Homo sapiens: one gene and its partners. The protein of the gene in region 3 interacts with the protein of the main gene of each other region in a biochemical or structural test. Each region holds a gene or a part of one and is shown on either strand. Other genes may lie near its edges. The genes, in order: NUP214, NOSIP and IPO5.

What was found.
Region 1: the proteins of IPO5 (region 3) and NUP214 form a complex in vitro, tested with the Homo sapiens proteins (one study listed by BioGRID).
Region 2: the proteins of IPO5 (region 3) and NOSIP form a complex in vitro, tested with the Homo sapiens proteins (one study listed by BioGRID).

Annotation. Positions count from the first base shown.
Region 1 is NC_000009.12:131,128,536-131,135,645, forward strand, and holds part of NUP214 (nuclear pore complex protein Nup214), read left to right. Parts: intron 1-743; coding exon 744-942; intron 943-2,230; coding exon 2,231-2,301; intron 2,302-4,060; coding exon 4,061-4,124; intron 4,125-4,570; coding exon 4,571-4,674; intron 4,675-6,362; coding exon 6,363-6,469; intron 6,470-7,110. UniProt on the Homo sapiens protein: Part of the nuclear pore complex. Has a critical role in nucleocytoplasmic transport.
Region 2 is NC_000019.10:49,570,494-49,577,603, forward strand, and holds part of NOSIP (nitric oxide synthase-interacting protein), read right to left. Parts: intron 6,385-7,110; exon of another isoform or gene 6,266-6,384; intron 4,492-6,265; exon of another isoform or gene 4,098-4,491; intron 1-4,097. UniProt on the Homo sapiens protein: E3 ubiquitin-protein ligase that is essential for proper development of the forebrain, the eye, and the face. Catalyzes monoubiquitination of serine/threonine-protein phosphatase 2A (PP2A) catalytic subunit PPP2CA/PPP2CB.
Region 3 is NC_000013.11:97,949,801-97,956,784, reverse strand, and holds the start of IPO5 (importin-5), read right to left. Parts: upstream 3,111-6,984; 5' UTR 3,069-3,110; intron 2,683-3,068; exon of another isoform or gene 2,667-2,682; 5' UTR 2,587-2,666; intron 1-2,586. UniProt on the Homo sapiens protein: Functions in nuclear protein import as nuclear transport receptor. Serves as receptor for nuclear localization signals (NLS) in cargo substrates.

The DNA of each region.
Region 1 (7,110 bases), on a different chromosome or scaffold from region 3:
TTGTATTGAATTACAACTTGGAAGCTTCATAGGTTAACCCTTGAAGTTTCTCTCTAGATTAAAATATGGGTTAAAAAAAAATCCTTAATTATAGAATCATAGATCTTTGAGACAGAAGGGACTTCAAGAAATTCTTTCATAACGCCATCTGCCCTAAGTTGTTATCAGGAGGCTTAGGTGACTTGCCCAAAGTCATAGATGAATACATAATGTCAAAAGTTCCTACATTTTGGATGTTCTTCCATTCCAAGCAGTTTAAGAATGATAATAATAGTGAGTGTTTATACTGACTGTGTGTGTTAGACTCTGTACTAAGTGCTTTATATGCCTTGTCCCTCGTTCATGCCTACCACAGCCTTATGTAGTAGGTACTATTATCTTCATTTTATAGGTAGAGAAACAGGCTCAGAGTTTAAGTAACTGTCCAAGGTCCCAACATTATTAAGAAGCAGAGCCAAGATTTTAATCTATTGTCTGCTATTTATTGGTTATTTTGCAATTGTGCATTCCCCTTCTGAGAGTCCCCCTAAGCATGTTAGAATAATTGATTGCCATTTTCAAAGTTGTGTTGAAATTGTCTATAGCAAATAGATTGATGCATAAAACAATCTTTTTTTATGGTTATGGAGAAAAATAAACTGATTTGAGATACCTTGTGTATTCAGTAATTTCCATTGAATATTAAATGTTTCTGCATTTACTATTTGTTAACTTATTTCACTTTTGCATATTTGTTTTAAAAGGCTAAACAGCAAAAACGCCCATTTGCCTATCATAAGCTTTTGAAAGATGCAGGAGGCATGGTGATTGATATGAAGTGGAACCCCACTGTCCCCTCCATGGTGGCAGTTTGTCTGGCTGATGGTAGTATTGCTGTCCTGCAAGTCACGGAAACAGTGAAAGTATGTGCAACTCTTCCTTCCACGGTAGCAGTAACCTCTGGTGAGTAATAAAGGCTTTCACACTGTAGCATACAATCATGGTCATCTACTTAAGAATTGATTTCTAGAAGTGAAAGTGGATAGCTTTTTGTGTTTTGGTTTTTTTTTTCATGACGAGGGAGGTTAAGGATGGAAGGTATTCTTTTTTGAGACAGTCTCACTGTGTCGCCCAGGCTGGAGTACAGTGGCATCATCTCAGCCACTGCAACCTCCACCTCCTGGGTTCAAGCAATTCTCGTGCCTCGGCCACCCAAATAGCTGGGATTATAGACATGCGCCACCATGCCCAGCTAATTTTTGTATTTTTTGTAGAGACAAGGTTTCACCATGTTGGCCAGGCTGGTCTTGAACTCCTGACCTCAAGTGATCTGCCCTCCTCCACCCCGCATATGCTAGGATTACAGGTGTGAGGCACTGTGCCCGGCTGAGAGTATTCTTTATACCCATAGTTAATGTCCTTGAAGCCAAACAGCATACATAATTTAACCTGAATGTACTTGGGATTTCTGGAGAAATATTTTGGTACAGCTGGTTTAGAAGTGTTTTTTGGGAATAATTGTTTCTGGATCTGTAACGGTGGTACTCTGAAAGTCATTTGTACCTTTGGGCGGAAAAGCATTTTAAATATTAAATGGGAGCAGGAGAATGATTTCTGGTTTTGTTTTTTTTTTTTTGTTTTTTTTTTGAGACAGAGTCTTGCTCTGTCGCCCAGGCTGGAGTGCAGTGGCGCGATCTCAGCTCACTGCAACCTCCACCTGCTGGGTTCAAGCAATTCTCTTGCCTCAGACTCCAGAGTAGTTGGGATTACAGGTGCCTGCCACCATGCCCAGCTAATTTTTGTATATTTTAGTAGAGACGGGGTTTCACCATGTTGGCCAGGCTGGTCTTGAACTTCTGACCTCAAGTGATCCGTCCGTCTCATCCTCCCAAAGTGCTGGGATTACAGGCATGAGCCACTGTGCCCGGCCAGTGATTTCTTGGTATTTGGAAACCTTCTCTGTTCTCCTTGTCTTATGTAAAGACTACAGAGTTTTCTGTATTTTGCAGCTTTCTGGGCAGTAATCTATTGAAAAAGCATTTTTAGCTTTCAATTCAATAGCCCAGTGATAAATCAATTGGCTTATATCGTTAAAATGATTTTACTTTTTTCCACTTTGCCTGATAGAGATGATCCTACAATCTTCCATGGACTGACAGAGGAATGAGAATTGATAATTAGCTGTGTGTGATAGATCTTATTGGTTTGCTCCATTTTCTTGTTTTCATTTGGTAATACTGTCTTTGCTCAGTGTGCTGGAGCCCCAAAGGAAAGCAGCTGGCAGTGGGAAAACAGAATGGAACTGTGGTCCAGTATCTTCCTGTAAGTTCTTATCTTGAACTTCAGAATTTTTCTTAAGTTGCCCACTTTTTTGGGGGTGGTTTGGGAGTATCTTTCTTGTTTTTCCTATTAAAAAGTAATTTATACTCATTGTAACAAATCCATCAGTGAATGAAGAGTGGAACTCTTCCCTTTCCCATAGTCCTTCTTCCAGAGGCACCCACTATGTTGTGTTGAGTAGATAGCCTTCCATACTTTTCTGGATGTTATACAAATAGTCTATGGGTAGCTGCTTTTTTTTTGTTGTTGTTTTTATGTAAAATGTGATCATACGCTATGCGCTGTTCCCCACCTTTTTCAGTCCATTCCATAAAAACAGCTCAAGGGAAAAGAGTTAGTGAAAAAACTATGATGATAATGCAGAATCACTCTGGGTTAAAGCACAGTATTTGTCTTTTAACTGAGTCTGTCTTTAAAGGTCTGTTTGTCTAACTATGGGCACCAAAGAAAATGGATACTCTTGTTGCATGTGCACTCTGTCATCCTCCCTGTGAATTTCTTGAAATAATGTTCACAAATATCCTTCAATATCAATTGAGTTGCAAGGAACCCCCATATGTCTATTGAGCCTGGACACGAAGGAGGGATTCACAGGTGGTGCTAAGGCCTTTCTTGTGCCTTCCTCCTCAAGACTGTTCTCTGGCGAGGAGGGGAGCAGAGTGGTGAATGTAGGTGGTATAGGTTTAAGGTTAAGGTTATGTTTCTTATTTGTTATTACCAAAAGTTACCTGAAATTTGGTACATAATCTTTTAGGACACTAACCTGTAAAAAGATAATGCAATTTTTTAAATTTTCTTGCTTTGCTGTTTGCCTTAATTTTTTATTTATTTATTATTATTTTTTTTTGAGAGATGGTCTTGCTCTGTTGCCCAGGCTGGGGTGCAATGGTGTGATAACGTAATGGTTCACTGCAGCCTCAGCCTCCTGGGCTCAGGTGATCCTTCCACTTCAGCCTCCCGGGTAGCTGAGACTACAGGCACTTGCCACCATGCACAGCTAATTTTTGTATTTTTTGTAGAGATAGGGTTTTGCCATGTTGCCCAGGCTGGTCTCAAACTCCTGGGCTCAAGCAGTGTGCCCACCTTGGCCTTCCAAAGTGCTGGGATTACAGACATGAGCCACCTCGCCCAGCCTTATTCCACTATTGATGATTGTCTGCATCAGTGCTAGTGGCGTTGCTGCTGCAAATGGTGTTGCATTGACTACTCTCATTACCTATATCTGAACATGTTCATGCGTTCATGCGTTTCTTTTCTTTTCTTTCTTTTTTTTTTTTTTTTGGAGACCAAGTTTTGCTTTTGTCACCCAGGCTGGAGTGCAATGACGTGATTTCAGCTCACCGCAACCTATGCCTCCTGGGTTCAAGCAGTTCTCCTGCCTCAGCCTCCCGAGTAGCTGGGATTACGGCACCCGCCACCACACCCAGCTATGTATTTTTAGTAGAGACGGGGTTTCGCCATGTTGGCCAGGCTAGTCTCGAACTCCTGACCTCAGGTGATCCACCTGCCTCGGCCTCCCAAAGTGTTGAGATTACAGGCATGAGTCACCACACCCAGCCACGTTCATGGGTTTCTGTAGGATGAAGTCCTGGAAGTAGATAGCACTATTCTGTTTCTTCAGTCTCTCCCGGCCAAGGAGATGGAACAGGTAGCATCTAAGGAATAGATTAGATTTGACAGTTTGATTGGTTTAGGATTTGTTTCATTTGATACTTTATTTTCCCCTCCAAATCTCTTTCAGACTTTGCAGGAAAAAAAAGTCATTCCTTGTCCTCCGTTTTATGAGTCAGATCATCCTGTCAGAGGTAACAACTGCTTTTCTTATTGGGCTGACCTCTAATGACATGTTATGTATATTACAGAAATTCAAAATCATGTAATGTACCTGCTCAGTGAGGTATTGGTGTTTGCTTTATGAATAATGTCACTATTTCAAACAGCTAATTAAGTCAGTGTAAATTATGGCCCTCTGGGTGACATCTGTGTTTCACGATAAATGACATGAAATGGATCCCGACTTTTTATTACAATTCTTCATAATTTGCCCTGATTATAATCCAGCAGAAAAATTACCATTTGGGGATGAGTTTGGGCTTCTTGGGTCATTGTACCTGTGCATTATATTTAGTCAATGAAATCAGGGCCTTTGATTTTTTTTTTATCCATAGTGGCTATTCCAAACATAAGCTGCTTTTTCTTGTATCTGGTTGCTGTCATTTTTATGAGCTACTGATTAAGATGTGTCTTTCAGTTCTGGATGTGCTGTGGATTGGTACCTACGTCTTCGCCATAGTGTATGCTGCTGCAGATGGGACCCTGGAAACGTCTCCAGATGTGGTGATGGCTCTACTACCGGTATGCCTGTGGAAGAAATTTCATTGTTTGAGAATTAGAGAAGTCTTCTAATAAAGCTGGAGGCTTTGATTTCAAGGGGTTTTTTTGTGTTTGTGTTTTTTTTTTTTTTTTTTGAGACAAGATCTCACTCTGTCGCCCAGGCTAGAGTGCAGTGATGCGATCTCACCTCACTGAAGCCTGGACCTCCTGGACTCAAGTGATCCTCCCACCTTAGCCTTCTGAGTAGCTGGTACTACAGGTGCACACCACTATGCCTGGCTAATTTTTTTTTTTTGGTAGAGATGGAGTTTCACCATGTTGCCCAGGCTGGTCTTGAACTCCTGAGCTCAAGTGATCTGCCCACCTAGGCTTCTCAAAGTGCTGGGATTACAGGTGTGCGTCACCGCACCTGGCCTGATTTCAGGTTCTTTTACTTACTGGCAGTGATTATGCAACTTCAGGTATAAGGTTTCCATGCTGCACCATGGGCCAGGGGTCTAAAATTGGAGTGTCCACAGCATGTTCTACTGTTATGAGGTTAAAAAAAAAATGATTTTGCTTAAGCTATAAACTATGAGTCTTGGTTAACTCGATAAATTTTAGAAAAGCAAGACAGTATCTTGATTTTTAAAATTATTTCATTTGCTCTCGAATATTTAATGCCAACAGTGTGCTAGGCACTGCTTTAAAGCTGAGTATATAGCAGTGATCAAGGTGATGGGCTTGCTTTTATGGTTTTAAGTTTGTTGTTGTTGTTAATTTTTATTTATTTTTTAGAGACAGAATCTCACTCTGTTGCCCAGGCTGGCATGTAGTGGTGCGATCACAGCTCACTACAGCCTCAAATTCTTGGGCTTAAGCCATCCTCCTGCCTCAGCCTCCCGAGTAGTTGGGACCACAGGCATGCACCAACACAGCCAGCTGTTTTTAAATTTTTCGCAGAGGTAGGGTCTTGCTTTGTTGCCCACGCTGGTCTCGGACTCCTGGCTTTAAGCAGTTCTCCCGCCTCATCTCTCAGAGCACTAGGATTACAGGTTTGAGCCACCACACCTGGCTGGTCTTACATTTTAATGGGATAGTCAATACTAAATGTGAGATCAAGGACTGATAAGAGTGATGGAGAAAATAAAGCCGTGTTAGGGATAGATGATGACTGGTATGTGTTTGAGATTGTGTGTCAAGGGAGGCCAATTTGATACTTGAAAAAGATGTCTTGTTTTTAACTCTTTTGGATTTCTAATAAGGTTGAGTTTTTGAAATATGTTTATCTAGATGCCTTATTTTAAGATTAGAGGTTTTTTCTATTCTAGGGGATAATATTAACACTAGTATTTATTAACTGCTACTTATGTTTCATGTACTGGGCTGGAAGTTTTGTATGTATCATTTCATTTTACACTTTACAGTAGCCTCTGAAGTAGGCTTAGTAGGTCTAGTATACACATGAGAACACTAAGTATCAGGAAGGTTGAAAAATCTGCATGTCTCGTGGGCAGAAAGTGGCAGAACAGAGTTTAAATGCAGTTCGGTTGATGGCCAATGTTTGTACTCCTTGTACTAAGTGCTGCCTTTATACCATGTCCGTATATCTGGACTTTGAGTAAATATTCTCATATAACTTTAAATGATTTATTATTTGAGATTCTTTTGCTGTGGGATCTGAGAAAAATTGCACATGAGAATTTTTTTTCTTGCTTTGTTCATTGTAGAAAAAAGAAGAAAAGCACCCAGAGATATTTGTGAACTTTATGGAGCCCTGTTATGGCAGCTGCACGGAGAGACAGCATCATTACTACCTCAGTTACATTGAGGAATGGTGAGCAGAGAGTCTGGACAGGGCATTCCTGCTCTCACTGGAAGATCACACCTGAGTCACCTTGTCCCATGTTGAAATCTTTTCTGATTGATTGATTGATGGATTGGCAGGGTCTCACTCCATTACCCAGGCTGGAGTGCAGTGGCACGATTGTAGCTCACAGAAGCCTGGAACTCCCAGGCTCAAGTGATCCTTCCACCTCAGCCTCCCAGATGGGACTACAAGCACATGCCACCACACCTGGCTTATTTTTAAATAAGTTTTTTGGTTTTTGTTTTTTGTTTTTAGAGATGGGATCTTGCTATGTTGCTCAGACTGGCTTCCCAAAGTACTGAGATTACAGGTGTGAGCTACCGCACCCAGCCTGAAATCTTTTCCATTACAGAGGAAAATGGAGGCTGAGATGCCTTGAACATATTTTCAGCTGATTCTTGATAATGTCTTTCTATTATTTCTGTTTCCCCAATCTTGAATTATTTATCTTAAATACATACTAATTTCAAAAATCTAATTTTCTCAATAACCCCTAGTGATGACTTACGAAAATATTGATATTCAAGGAATATATTAAAAGTTTCCTGAGAGCAGAGTTGCCCTTTGGAATGGAGATTACTCAAAGCAAAGCTTCCATCCCTCTAGCT
Region 2 (7,110 bases), on a different chromosome or scaffold from region 3:
ACCCTATGGAGATACAGAACCTTCCTATCACGCTAAATACCCCCTCACGCCCCTTCCCGATCAATGTGCCCCCTGAGGCAGCCAGGGCTGCTTGCAGAAGGGCGACCTTGATCAAACACCCCAACTTGACCCAGGGTCCCCTCCACATGCCAGGCTCCTCCTCCGACTTCCCCCTGACCCCCAAGCTTCTCAGTGAACGTCCAACACCTGTTGCCTCCCCTCACCTGCCATCCGCTCCCCAGCCCCCACAACTGCCACTCATGAAGGTCACGGTGACCTTTTCATGGACACATTCCCCACTCTATTCTTAGTTGTCAACTCCCTTGACCCTCTGCAGTATTTGGCTCTGGGCACCTCGGCTTTCCCAGAGATGAGCTTGCTTGCTGTTTTGTGGCCAAGAACTGAGGTTTCTACATAGATGGGGACATTTTCCCTCCAAAAATAGGAGGAACACCTATAGAGGGAGCATTTAAACTTTTTTTAATTTAATTTGTTTTTTTTGAGATGGAGTCTTGCTCTGTTGCCGAAGCTGGAGTGCAGTGGTGTGATCTCGGCTCACTGCAACCTCCACCTCCTGGGTTCAAGCAATTCTCCTGCCTCAGACTCCCAAGTAGCTGAGATAACAGGCGCCCACGCCCAGCTAATTTTTTTTTTTTTTTTTTTGTATTTTTTAGTAGAGACAGGGTTTCACCATGTTGGCCAGGCTAGTTCTGAACTCCTGATCTCAAGTGATCCGCCCACCTCAGCCTCCCAAAGTGCAAGGATTACGGGCATGAACCACTGCACCCGGCAAACTCTTTGATTTTTAAAACTCAGTGATTTTTAAGATCCTGAGACCAGAAAGCGTGAGCGCCTCCAACCAAGGGTGGAAGAATAGCCAGTTTCAGGATTTACAAACTCTGAAAGCTGAGCTCTCCTGCCCCACACTATATTGTCTCTTTGGTAGGTCCAATTTCAAACTACAAAGCAGACTGCTGCCATCTGCTGTCACCAGCATTTCAGAGAGGAAACAGGCAAAGAGCAGGAGCGACCGATGTCAGCATAATCCCTACCTCACAGCACAGGAAACAGGCTCACAGCATGTCCCAGCTGGGAAATGGCAGAGCTGGGACTCAGACCCAGGCAGCCAGGCTCTGGAGCCATTCCTTTTAACTAGGTGACAACTGTCAGTTTTCCTAGGAAAGTCACAATCTCAGAAAAAAGGCCAATCAGGCTGGCCACGGTGGCTTAAACCTGTAATGCCAGCACTCTGGGAGGCTGAGACGGGTGGATCACAAGGTCAAGATGTTGAGACCATCCAGGCCAACATGGTGAAACCCCATCTCTACTAAAAATACAAAAATTAGCTGGGTGTGTTGGTGCGCGCCTGTGGTCCCAGCTGCTCGGGAGGCTGAGGCAGAAGAATCGCTTGAACCCAGGAGGTGGAGGTTGCAGTGAGCCCAGATCGCACCACTGCACTTCAGCCTGGCGACAGAGTGAGACTCTGTCTCAAAAAAAAAAAAAAAAAAAAGCCAATCCATTCCTTTATTTGTAGCCTTTGAAATCCAGAATGTATTTTACTCTTTCAGCACATCTCAGTAATTTCAGTAATTCAGATGCTAAATTTTCTTTTTTTTTTCTTTTTTTTTTGAGATGGAGTTTCGCTTTTATCACCTAGGGTGGAGTGCAGTGGTGTGATCTCGGCTCACTGCAACCTTCACCTCCCCGATTCAAGTGATTCTCCTGCCTCAGCCTTCCAGGTAGCTGGGATTACAGGCACCCGCCACCATGCCTGGCTAATTTTTTGTATTTTTAGTAGAGATGGGGTTTCGCCATGTTGGGCAGGCTGGTCTCGAACTCCTGACCTCAGGTGATCCACCCGCCTCAGCCTCCCAAAGTGCTAGGATTACAAGCATGAGTCACTGCACCCAGCCTTTTTTTTTTTTTTTTTTTTTTGAGACAGAGTCTCGCTCTGTTGCCCAGTCTGGAGTGCAAAATAGTGCAATCTTGGCTCACTGCAACCTCCACCTCCAGGGCTCAAGCCATTCTCCTGCCTCAGCCTCCCAAGTAACTGGAATTCCAGGCGTGTGCCACCATGCCCAGCTCATTTTTGTATTTTTATATTTGTATTTTTAGCACAGATGGGGTTTCACCACATTGGCCTGGCCATCAGATGCTAAATTTTCATTGGAGATACTTTAAAATATATATATATATATGGCTGGGAGCAGTGGCTCACGCCTGTAATCCCAGCACTTTGGGAGCCCAAGGCGGGCAGATCACCTGAGGTCAGGAGTTCAAGACCAGCCTGGCCAATGTGGCGAAACCCTGTCTCTACTAAAAATGCAAAAATTGGCTGGGTGTGGTGGCAGGTGCCTGTAGTCCCAGCTACTCGGGAGGCTGAGGCAGGAGAATCGCTTGAACCTGGGGGCAGAGGTTGCAGTGAGCCAAGATCGGGCCACTGCACTCCAGCCTGGCCAACAGATCAAGACTGTGTCTCAAAAAAAAAAAAAAAAAAAAAGCCCGGCTCTGAAGCAGACCCTGGCTCTAAGCATTTTACTGAATATCATAACACCTCAAACGGTCGAATATCACAACACTCCACTGAATATCACAGCACCTCAAATAGTTGCTATAAATGAAGAGAGGCACAGAGGCGGTGCCCTAGGTTATGCAGCTAGTGAGTCCTACAGCTGTGTTTGATCCAAGCACCTGTGGCTTTGACCATCCACTGTGCCAGCTGGCTGCAGGCGGCCTCAGGCACTGTGCTGAACTCTGGGAGTGGATCAGACAGCTAGTGTGTGTCTTGTCCTCCCCTGAAATCCTGTCTCCTTTCTCCTCCAGAGCACTGCCAAGGTTTGCCTCCTCCAAGAAGCCTGCCTCTCCGGGATCAGTTAGGTTCTCCTTGCACTTGACCGTGCCCTGAGCTACCTCCGTTACAGCCCGTCCCTCGGTATTTCGGCTCCAGAGTAGGGGCCCTGGTTGGTGGGGCCTGGGTTGAACTTCAGCCTGGGTCCCAGCATTGCCTGGCACCTGGGAGGTCTCAGAGATGTCATGATAGAATCAATGAACCACCTCCAATCCTAGGGCCAGGGGAGGTGGGTTAGCAATGAACTAACCATGCAGCCATGACATCATGCCATTAATACACTAATAATTCATTAGTAACATGTGAATCACAGAAGCACTGGAAGAACAGAAGTAATCATCACATCCTTCAACCCCTTAAGAATCAGACCTTGTGGGAAGCACTTTCCACATGTGAACACATTCGGTCCTCATGACAACCTCCCCACGTTCTGCCCATTTATTTTATTTTATGTATGTATGTATGTATGTATGTATTTATTTTGGAGACAGTCTCACTGTCACCAGGACTGAAGTATTTTTTTTTTTTTTTTTTTGGAGACGGAGTCTCACTCTGTCACCCGGACTGGAGTGCAGTGGCACGATCTTGACTCACTGCAACCTCCACCTCCCAGGTTCAAGTGATTCTCCTGCCTCAGCCTCCCAAGTAGCTGGGATTACAAGCACACACCACCATGCCTAGATACTTTTTTTGTATTTTTAGTAGAGACGGGGTTTCACCATGTTGGCCAGGCTGGGTCTTGAACTCCTGACCTCAGGTGATCTACTACCTCGGCCTCCCAAAGTGCTGGGATTACAGGCATGAGCTACCGCGCCCAGTCTTGCTCATTTAATAGGTAGGAAAATTGAAGCTTGGAGAAATTGGCCTCTTCCTCAGTCTATTCCTTGACAAACCAGCCTCAGGGGGGCTTTTCAGAATGGAAGTTTGATTAAGTCACTCTCTTCAACTGCTTCTTGGACATGACTCAAGACAAAAACCAAATTATTCAGACTAAGTGTAAGAGAAATGGGAGAATAGGAAAACTGCCATTTTGCAACCTCTGGTGAAATAGCTGACTCAGGCAATGATTGTTGATGGATGGCATTAAAGGAGAGGCTGATGGGGCCTGGATAGTCACAGGATGCTAATTCTTGCTACTGGAAAATACACAGTTGTAGCTTTACAATGCGGTTTTCGATGGCTGCCACCTGTCTCAGTCTGCTCCAGCTGCCATAACAAAACACCACTCTGGGTGGCTTAAACAACAGACCTATTTTCTCCAGTTCCTGAGGCTGGAAGTCTAAGTTCAGGCTACCAGCATTGTGGGGTTCTGGTGACACCCTCTTCCTGGTTTGCAGATGGCTATCTTCAGTGGCAGAGAGAAAGCTCTCTGGTGTCTCCTTCTGTTTTTTGGGAGGAGTCTCACTTTGTCACCTAGGTTGGAGTGCAGCGGCGGATCTCGCCTCCCAGGCCCAAGTGAATCTCCTGCTTCAGCCTCCTAAGTAGCTGGGATTACAGGCGTCCACCACCATGCCTGGCTAATTTTTTTTTTTTTTTTTTGAGACGGAGTTTCGCTCTGTCACCCAGGCTGGAGTGCAGTGGCGTGATCTCGGCTCACTGCAAGCTCTGCCTCCAGGGTTCATGCCATTCTCCTGCCTCAGCCTCCCGAGTAGCTGGGACTACAGGCGCCCGCCACCATGCCCGGCTAATTTTTTTGTATTTTTAGTAGAGAGGGGGTTTCACCACGTTAGCCAGGATGGTCTCTATCTCCTGACTTCGTGATCTGCCCACCTCGGCCTCCCAAAGTGCTGGGATTACAGGCGTGAGCCACTGCGCCCGGCCTCATTTTTGTATTTTTAGTAGAGACAGAGTTTCACCATGTTGGCCAGGCTGGTCTTGAACTCCTGATCTCATGTGATCCACCTGCCTTGGCCTCCCACAGTGCTGGGATTATAGGCATGAGCCACCATGCGCAGCCTCCTCCTATTATAAGGACACCAATCCATCAGATTAGGGCCCCACTCTTTCACCTTAATTATCTCCACAAAGGCCCTACCTCCAAATATAATCACCTTGGGGAATTAGGGCTTCAATATACGAATCTGGGGGGGACATTCAGTCTATAATGCTGCCTGAGCCTGAATGAATTTCACTACCCCTGAAAATGGGGCACCCAGGCAGTATGCAACATGAAGCGACCAGCTCTGAAGTAATCACCTGACAGCTGAATGGAAATTTAATCAAGTCTTTACATTCAATTTCCTGATTCTAGGAAGTCAGAGGATATAGCAGGGAATAACAAAAAAGGGCCAGAGAGTAAATGTTTTGAACTTTGCAGGCCAAACAGCCCCTGTAAGTACTCCACTCAGCCCCTGTAGCATAAAAGCAGCCACAGACACACAAACGGGCATGGCTGTGTTCCAATAAAACTTTACTTTTAGACTCTGACACGGAATCACATATAATTGTCATAGGTCACCAAATTCATTCTTTTGGTTTTTTCCAGTTATGTAAAAACGTTAAAAACCAGGCCAGGCGCAGTGGCTCACGCCTGTAATCCCAGCACTTTGGGAGGCCAAGGCGGGCAGATCGTGAGGTCAGGAGATTGAGACCATCCTGACTAACACGGTGAAACCCCGTCTCTACTAATAATACAAAAACAAAATTAGCCGGGCGTGGTGGCGGGCGCCTGTAGTCCCAGCTACTCCGGAAGCTGAGGCAGGAGAATGGCATGAACCCGGGAGGTGGAGCTTGCAGTGAGCGGAGATCACGCCACTGCACTCCAGCCTGAGCGACAGAGCGAGACTCCATCTTATAAAAAAAAAATGTTAAAAACCATTTTTAGTTTGCAGGCTGAACAAAAACAGGTAGCAGTTACAAAAGTCAGATATCTCCTGGCTGTTGTGGCTCATACCTGGATAGGGTGCTTTGGGAGGCAAAGGCAGGAGGATCACTTGAACTCACGAGTTCAAGACCAGCCTGAGCAACATGCCAAAACCCTGTCTCTACCAAAAAAAAGCAGCAGCAGCATGGTTTTTGAGACCAGACTTGAACTTGCTATGGGCAACATAGCAAGACTCCATCTCCACAAAACAAAATTTAAAAAATTAGCCGGGCATAGTGGCATGCGCCTGTGGTCCCAGCTACTTGGGAGGCTGAGGCAGGAGGATCACTTGATCCCAGGAGGTTGAGGCTGCAGTGAGTTATGATCGTGCCACTGCACCACTGCACTCCAGACTGAGTGACAGAGTGAGACCTTGTCTCTGGGGAAAAAAAAAAAAATGCCAGGTGAGGTGGCTCACACCTGTAATCCCAGCACTTTGGGAGGCCGAGGTGGGCGGATCACCTGAGGTTGGGAATTCGAGACCAGCCTGACCAACATGGAGAAACCCCATCTCTACTAAAAATACAAAATTAGCTGGGCGTGGTGGTGCATACCTGTAATCCCAGCTACTCGGGAGGCTGAAATGGGACAATCACTTGAACCTGGGAGGCGAAGGTCGTGATGAGCCAAGATCGCACCATTGCACTCCAGCCTAGGCAACAAGAGTGAAACTCTGTCTCAAAAAAAAAAAAAAAAAAAAAAAAATCAGGATATCTGATAAGGGAATTGCAGTGAGAATATATTAAAAACTTACAACTCAATAATGAAAGGACACCTAACACAATTTGAAAATGGGTAAAGGATTGGAATAGACAGTTCTTCAAAGATCTACAAATGGCCAATAAGCATGTTAAAAGACACCAGTTCACACCCCCTAGAATGACTATAATCAAAAAGATAAATAATAAGTGCTGGTGTGGATATGGAGAAACTGGAACCCTTATACATTGGTGGTAGAAATGTAAAATGGTACAGCCATTCTGGAAAAGTCACAGTTTCTCAAAAGGTTAAATAGTCACCTTTTGACCCAGCAATTCCACTGCCAATAGAAATAAAAACATACATCCATGCAGGCGGGGCGCGGTGGCTCATGCCTGTAATCCCAGCACTTTGGGAGGCCAAAGCGGGCGGATCATGAGGTCAAGAAATCGAGACCATCCTGGCCAACATGGCGAAACCCCATCTCTACTAAAAATACAAAAATTAGCTAGGCGTGGTAGCGCATGCCTGTAGCCCCAGCTAGTCGGGAGGCTGAGGCAGGAGAGTCGCTCAAACCTGGGAGCCGAGATCACGCCACTGCACTCCAGCCTGGGTGACAGAGCAAGACTCTGTCTCAAAAAAAGAAAAAAAAAGAAAAGAAGTATATCTTGGGTAAAGGAATATTATCCAGCCATAAAAA
Region 3 (6,984 bases):
AGAGACTCCTATTTTACAAATCACTTGGCTTGTGTGAATTGACTATTTAGTGGCTGTGAGATTGAGGATAAGGGCTAAATCTTTTCTAACAAGAGGACTATTTAAAAACCAGAAGAAAATCATAGTATTTTAGCTGTGAACTTTAGGAGAAGCTTTAGAGAAAAGATTTTATACATATCTTTAGTTTCATATGGTAATAGGTTATAAAGCATACGAAATCAAAGTAAAGAGCTAGAGGTGATGGGGTACTGTTAAAATAGGGTGCCCAGGGAAGACCTTCCTAAGGGTGAGATCCAACAATGTATTGCTTTATGAAAATTAATTTTCTGGCAGAGCAAAGGTATTTAAAAGATTAGTATTAAAAATGCTCAACCTACTTTCTTCTGACTTCTGTAAAAAAGCACTTTTTTATATATCAGATTTTTAAGTTATAATAATAACTGACAACATTTTGATTTCTTTCTGTGTTTGAGGGATAACCTTCTATGCTTTATCTTATTTAATTCTCAAATGTAACCAATGAGCCTTCAACCATTTTGTCAAGAAAATTCTTTAAACATGTATTAATTCCTTACTGGCCTTTTGAAACCTTTTGAAACACTGAATTATTATTATTTTTATTTTTTACTTTTTTTGTTCGTTTTTTTTTTTTTGACACGGAGTCTCGCACTGTCGCCCAGGCTGGAGTGCAGTGGCGCGATCTTGGCTCACTGCAAGCTCCACCTCCCGGGTTCACGCCATTGTCTCGCCTCAGCCTCCAGAGTAGCTGGGACCACAGGTGCCCGCCACCACGCCCGGCTAATTTTTTGTATTTTTAGTAGAGACGGGGTTTCACCGTGTTAAGCCAGGAAGGTCTTGGTCTCCTGACCTTGTGATCCGCCTGCCTTGGCCTCCCAAAGTGCTGGGATTACAGGCATGAGCCACTGCGCCTGGCCAAAATGCTGAATTATTTTTCACCTTTCCAGAGTGGGGCGTATAGGATAGAAGTTGGCCCTTGGGATGAGGGGATCCTGACTGTAGTTGCAGCTTCCCCCTTAACTAGCTGTGATCCTGAACTGGGCTGTCAATGCTTCCTGAGGCCTCCATTTCCTCATCTGTAAATTGGGGCGAGTTGGGCAGCACCCTAGGGGATCCTCCCAGCTCCGGCGTCTGAGGACCATCAAGTCGGTTATGTCACTGGGTTGTGGTAGAGTGGTGGATACACAGGCCACTTAGGCTTGCTTGCCCTGAGGTGAAATTGTTCTGGAACTCTGGGATTTCAACTCTTATATTTCTGCCTGTGTTTTGGAAGTGTTTTCCCCGCTCATTTTCTCCATCAGACAGTGTCATTTATTGTAGCTGCCAACATAAAATGACAACTGTCTCCACTTGTCAGCTGCTCTCATCATCTGGTTTGCTGTGTGCTTTGGAAGGCAGATGACCAAGCATGTATGAACTAGGCACAAGAGTATATGAACTCAGCACAGAGAAGACAGCTGAGGATATTTCCTGTAGAGTAGCATGCATGAACTTTATAAGGTATTTGGCCACTTAGGTATTTTTCTTTTTTTTTTTTCGTGATAGGGTCCCACTCTGTCACCCAGGCTGGAGTGCAGTGGCACAGTCATGGCTCACTGCAGTCTTGACCTCCCCAGCTCAAGGAATCCTCTCACCTCAGCCTCCTGAGTCCCTGGAATTACAGATGCATTCTGCCATAACTGGCTACTTTTTTCTATATTTTGTAGAGACAGGGTCTCACTATGTTGCCTAGGCTGACCTTAAACTCCTAGGCCCAAGTGATCCTCCCACCTCAGCCTCCCAAAGTGCTGGGATTATAGGTGTGAGCCACTGTGCCCGGCCGGTATTTTTCATTTGGAGGTTTATAATTGCATTCCAGAGTTTTAACTCTACTGGAAAGCTAACACAATGTTCCAACACAAATCTGTCTCGCATACTAGTTAGTGTCTTTGAGGTTCCATCACAGACAAATGACGGAAGAAAGCAAAACTGTTTAGGAAGGTCTAAATTAAACATTCTATAATAAAGGCATTAGCATTTGACAAGTCCCTGGTATCTAATACTTTATAAGATGACAATGAGCCTTTTTTACCCCTAGTTAGGGGATTAAGTTCTAGGAGAAGAAGTTAACCAGGTGGTTCCTTAAGTAAGTAATCTTTTGACTACTTAGGGATTGATTTTGTTTTCCCATAATGAAAATGAATTCTGTTTTCCTTCATTTACTTGACTTTAGTGATCTCTGAAAACTAAGATAAAATATACTCGGCCTCTGAGGGAATACAACCATAATGTACAGAAGACAAAATAGATACTCTAAAGATTTTAAATGGAACATCTTGGGATTTGAGAAATTAAAGGCAGTGAAAATCATACTGCTTCTAAGCACTTTTTATTCTCCCTATAGGAAAGCAGGGTAGATAATCCTGATGGGTTGGATTTCAATTAATTGGTGAATAGAAGGTAAAATGATCAAGAAACAGATATCATAATTATAGGAGAAAATAGCAGGAGCTTTTTGTTTTAAAGGAAATAAAGAATAGAATTCACAGTGAAGAGAGACAGAACAAAATCTGATAATTCTAGACTCACTTGAGTGCCGCAAGTATCCTGATCAGGGAAAACAGTTGTGCCTACACATGGGTCCTGGAAAGGCTTCTCCCCGGAACCACCTAAGTGAAATAAAAACTGATTTCTGACTGTTTCAGGATGGCAACACAGACCTTTAGGATAATAACCCACATTCTTTTGGGCAACTCTAATCAAGTGATGCCTCCTTAAGGATACAGAGTTAGTCCCCAGCTCACGTAAGGCACAATACCAAAGAACAATGAGCCATCATGAAATCGTCATTGTTTCATACTTGGTTTTTGTGTAGAATGTTCTCCAAATCATTGTCTCTGACGTTTCCTTCCTCTTGGGTATGACTGTGGTGACGTCAGGAGACGAGCTAAAGGGACCTCCTGGATCTCACAGGGAAACTCTTTCCCTCCAGTATCACGCTAAATTGTTCCTCAGTGCAGATGAAATTCTTAAATGGTTTCATCTGAATGTGAGGTTTTGGGATGACTTACTGTGGTCAGAGCTGTTCCCGGCTGCTCCAGTTGTGGGAGGTCATCAATCCCACAGTTCTGACCTCCTGGCTCAGAGACGTCACCGTGGAGACACCTGGCTGCTATTGTGACACGCAGGAGGTCAGCTGGCTCCTGCTAGTGGGCATTTACACTGCCCACCCTGCCAGCTTCACAGGCCCACACTGCACAGGCATTTAGACGTTACAGGGTAGCCCAAGCTCCCAAAGCTGTGGAAAGGAAAGGGAGCTATCTATTGGCCTTTGAGAACTCAAAACCCATGTTGCTGGGGGCCACTCAGATTGGGTACAAATGTGTCATCAAATTCAGTTTTGAAACTGTCTGAGTAGCTTCTTTACCCACAGATTTTGATTCTATTCACTACTCAATACTGAAAAGAGAAATTGATCTCTCAAATAGACAAAGATAAATTTGTATGGAAACAACAGGAAATTCCATATTACATACGTTTATGTCAACTGGGTTTGTGATTAAATTACTTTTTCTTTTATTTTAGTTGACATGTAATAATTATAAATATTGGCTGGGCGGGGTGGCTCATGCCTGTAATTCCAGCACTTTGGGAGGCCGAGGTGGGAGGATCATTTGAGCTCAGGAGTTCAAGACCAGTCTTGGCAACATGGCAAAACCCCATCTCTATGAAAAATGCAAATATTAGATGCGTGTGGCAGTGCACACCTGTAGTCCCAGCTGCTCAGGAAGCTGAAGTGGGAGGATCATCTGAGCCGGGGGAGGTTGAAGCTGCAGTGAGCTGTGATTGCACCACTGCACTCCAGCCTGGGCAACAGAGTGAGACCTTGTCTCAAAAAATAAACAATAAAAAATTGCAGATATTTATGGGATGTAATTAAATTTTTATATGACAGATTAACATCAATTTTGCCCTGTATTCTCATGGATCTCAATGCCCTAGCTTTGTACATTTAGCTTTTCTTTTTTTTTTGAGACAGATTCTCACTCTGTTGCCCAGGCTGGAGTGCAGTGGCGTGATCTCGGCTCACTGCAACCTCCACCTCCCGGGTTCAAGAAATTCTCCTGCCTCAGCCTCCCAAGTAGCTGGGATTACAGGTGCCCACCACCATGCCCGAATAATTTTTGTATTTTAGTACAGATGGGGTTTCACCACGTTGGCCAGGCTGGTCTTGAACTCCTGACCTCAAGTGATCCATCTGCCTCGGCCTCTCAAAGTGCTGGGATTACAGGCATGATCCCCTGCGCTGGCCTAGCATTTTGTTGTTTTTATTAATTCAGATCATTAATTAAAGCCAAACTCCATTTTTGTAATTATTTATTTCTTTTTTTTTTGATACAGAGTCTCTCTCTGTTGCCCAGGCTGGTGTGATCTCAGCTCACTGCAACCTCTGCCTCTCTGGTTCAAGCGATTCTTCTGCCTCAGCCTCCCAAGTAGCTGGGATTACAGGCACGCGCCACCATGCTCGGCTAATTTTTATATTTTTAGTAGAGACGGGGTTTCACCATGTTAGCCAGGATGGTCTCGATCTCCTGACTTCGTAATCTGCCCACCTTGGCCTCCCAAAGTGCTGGGATTACAGGCATGAGCCAACGCACCCGGCCTATTTTTGATTTTTAAATTGTTTCATAGGACATGGGCAGACTCCTTTGTATAGGTCACATTTTTTTCTTGGTAACGTGTGATGTCTAAGCACTTTCTAGTGTCACCCCGCATATCCTGAAAGTTCTTCAGCACTATTCCTTGCTTCTTCGTCCTCATCCTATGTCACTGGTTCTTTTTTTGTTTTTGAGACAGGGGTCTCATTATGTTACCCAGGCTGGTCTCGAACTATGGGCTCAAGAGATCCTCCTGCCTCAGCCTCCCAAGTGGTTGGGACTGCAGGAGCTCGCTACTGCACCTGACTTCTAACATTTTGGCTTGTGGGCAGGTGTCTTCATGGCATTTTGCTCAAGCATCTTACCAAGGGTCTGATACCAGAATTTACATAGATTCAGAATCAGCGATTGAATGGTTACAAGGTTACTGCAAAATGTATGAAGAACATTTTATTTAGTTACGTATTTGTTTATTTTTTAGTTCTTTTTTTAGAGACAGTCTTGCACTGTTACCCACCCTGGAGTCCAGTGATGCAATCATGGCTCACTGCATGCCCCACCATACTTGGTTAATGTTCTAAAAAAATGTTTGTAGACGTTGGGGGAGGGTCTCACTGTGTTGCCTAGGCTGATCTTGAACTCCTGGCCTCAAGTGAGCTGGGAGCACCTTGGCCTCCCAAAGTGCTGGGATTACAGGGGTGAGCCATTGTGCCCTTCCTGAAGAACATTTTAAAAGAACAAATCCGAGAAGTTTCTCCAGTGCCTATGACATTGACCAGTTGCTTGGTGTATTAGTCTGTTTTCATGCTGCTGATAAAGACCGTGGCTGGGCACAGTGGCTCATGCCTCTAATCCTAGCACTTTGGGAGGCTGAGGTCAGGAGTTCGAGACCACCCTGGCCAACATGGCAAAACCCTGTCTCTACTAAAAATAGAAAAATTAGCTGGGCATGGTCGTGGGTGCCTGTAGTCCCAGCTACTTGGGAGGCTGAGGCAGGAGAATCACTGAACCCAGGAGGTGGAGGTTGCAGTGAGCCGAGATTGTGCCACTGTACTCCAGCCTGGGTGACAGAGCAAGACTTGGTCTCAAAAAAAAAAAAGAAAAAAAAAAAGACATACCTGAGACTGGGTAATTTATAAAGAAAAAGAGGTTTAATGGACTCACAGTTCCATGTGGCTGGGGAGGCCTCATAGTCATGGTGGAAAGCAAAAGATACATCTTACATGGTGGCAGGCAAGAGAGAATGAGAACCAAGTGAAAGGAGAAACCTCTTATAAAATCGTCAGATCTCGTGAGGCTTATTCACTACCACAAGAACAGTATGAGGGAAACTGCCCCCATGGTTCAAATATCTCCTACCGGGTCCCTTTCACAACACACGGGAATTATGGGAGCTACAATTCAAGATGAAATTTGGGTGGGGACACAGGCAAACCATATCACTTGGTTTTTTGGAAGGTGCCAGCAGACCTGACTGCACTGGCTGATCCTTGGGCATTCCAAACCTACACCAAAGACAGGATTTAGGGGAATATACATTGATTTCTTCATCAGCAGGCACAACCAGTGGAATACTGAATAGGAATCACCATGGTGGATAAGGGTAGGCTAGAAAGTCACATATAGAGAGCACTATGGTGGATATTTTGCATTGTGGCTTTATTAGTCCGTTTTCACAGTGATGATAAAGACATACCCAAGACTGGGCAACTTACAAAAGGAAGAGGTTTGTTGGGCTTATGATTCCACATGGCTGGGGAGGCCTCACAAACATGGCGGAAGGTGAAAGGCACATCTCACATGGCGGCAGACAGGAGAAGAGAGCTTGTGCAGGGATACTTTTTTTTTTTTTTTTTCCTGAGACAAAGTCTTGCTCTGTCGCCCAGGCTGGAGTGCAGTGGTGTGATCTCAGCTAACTGCAACCTCCTCCTCCAGGGTTCAAGCAATTCTGCCTCAGCCTCCCGAGTAACTGGGATTACAGGCACATGCCACCATGCCCGGCTAATTTTTGTATTTTTTTTTTTTTTTTTTTTTTGGAGACTGAGTCTCACTCTGTCACCCAGGCTGGAGTGCAGCGATGCGATCCTGGCTCACTGCAACCTCCACCTCCCGGGTTCAAGCGATTCTCCTGCCTCAGCCTCCTGAGTAGCTGGGATTACAGGTGTGTGCCACTATGCCCAGCTATTTTGTATATTTAGTAGAGATGGGGTTTCACCATGTTAGCCAGCTGATCTCGAATTCCTGACCTTTGGTGATCCACCTGCCTTGGCCTCCCAAAGTGCTGGGATTACAGGCGTGAGCCACCACGCCTGGACTCATTTTTGTATTT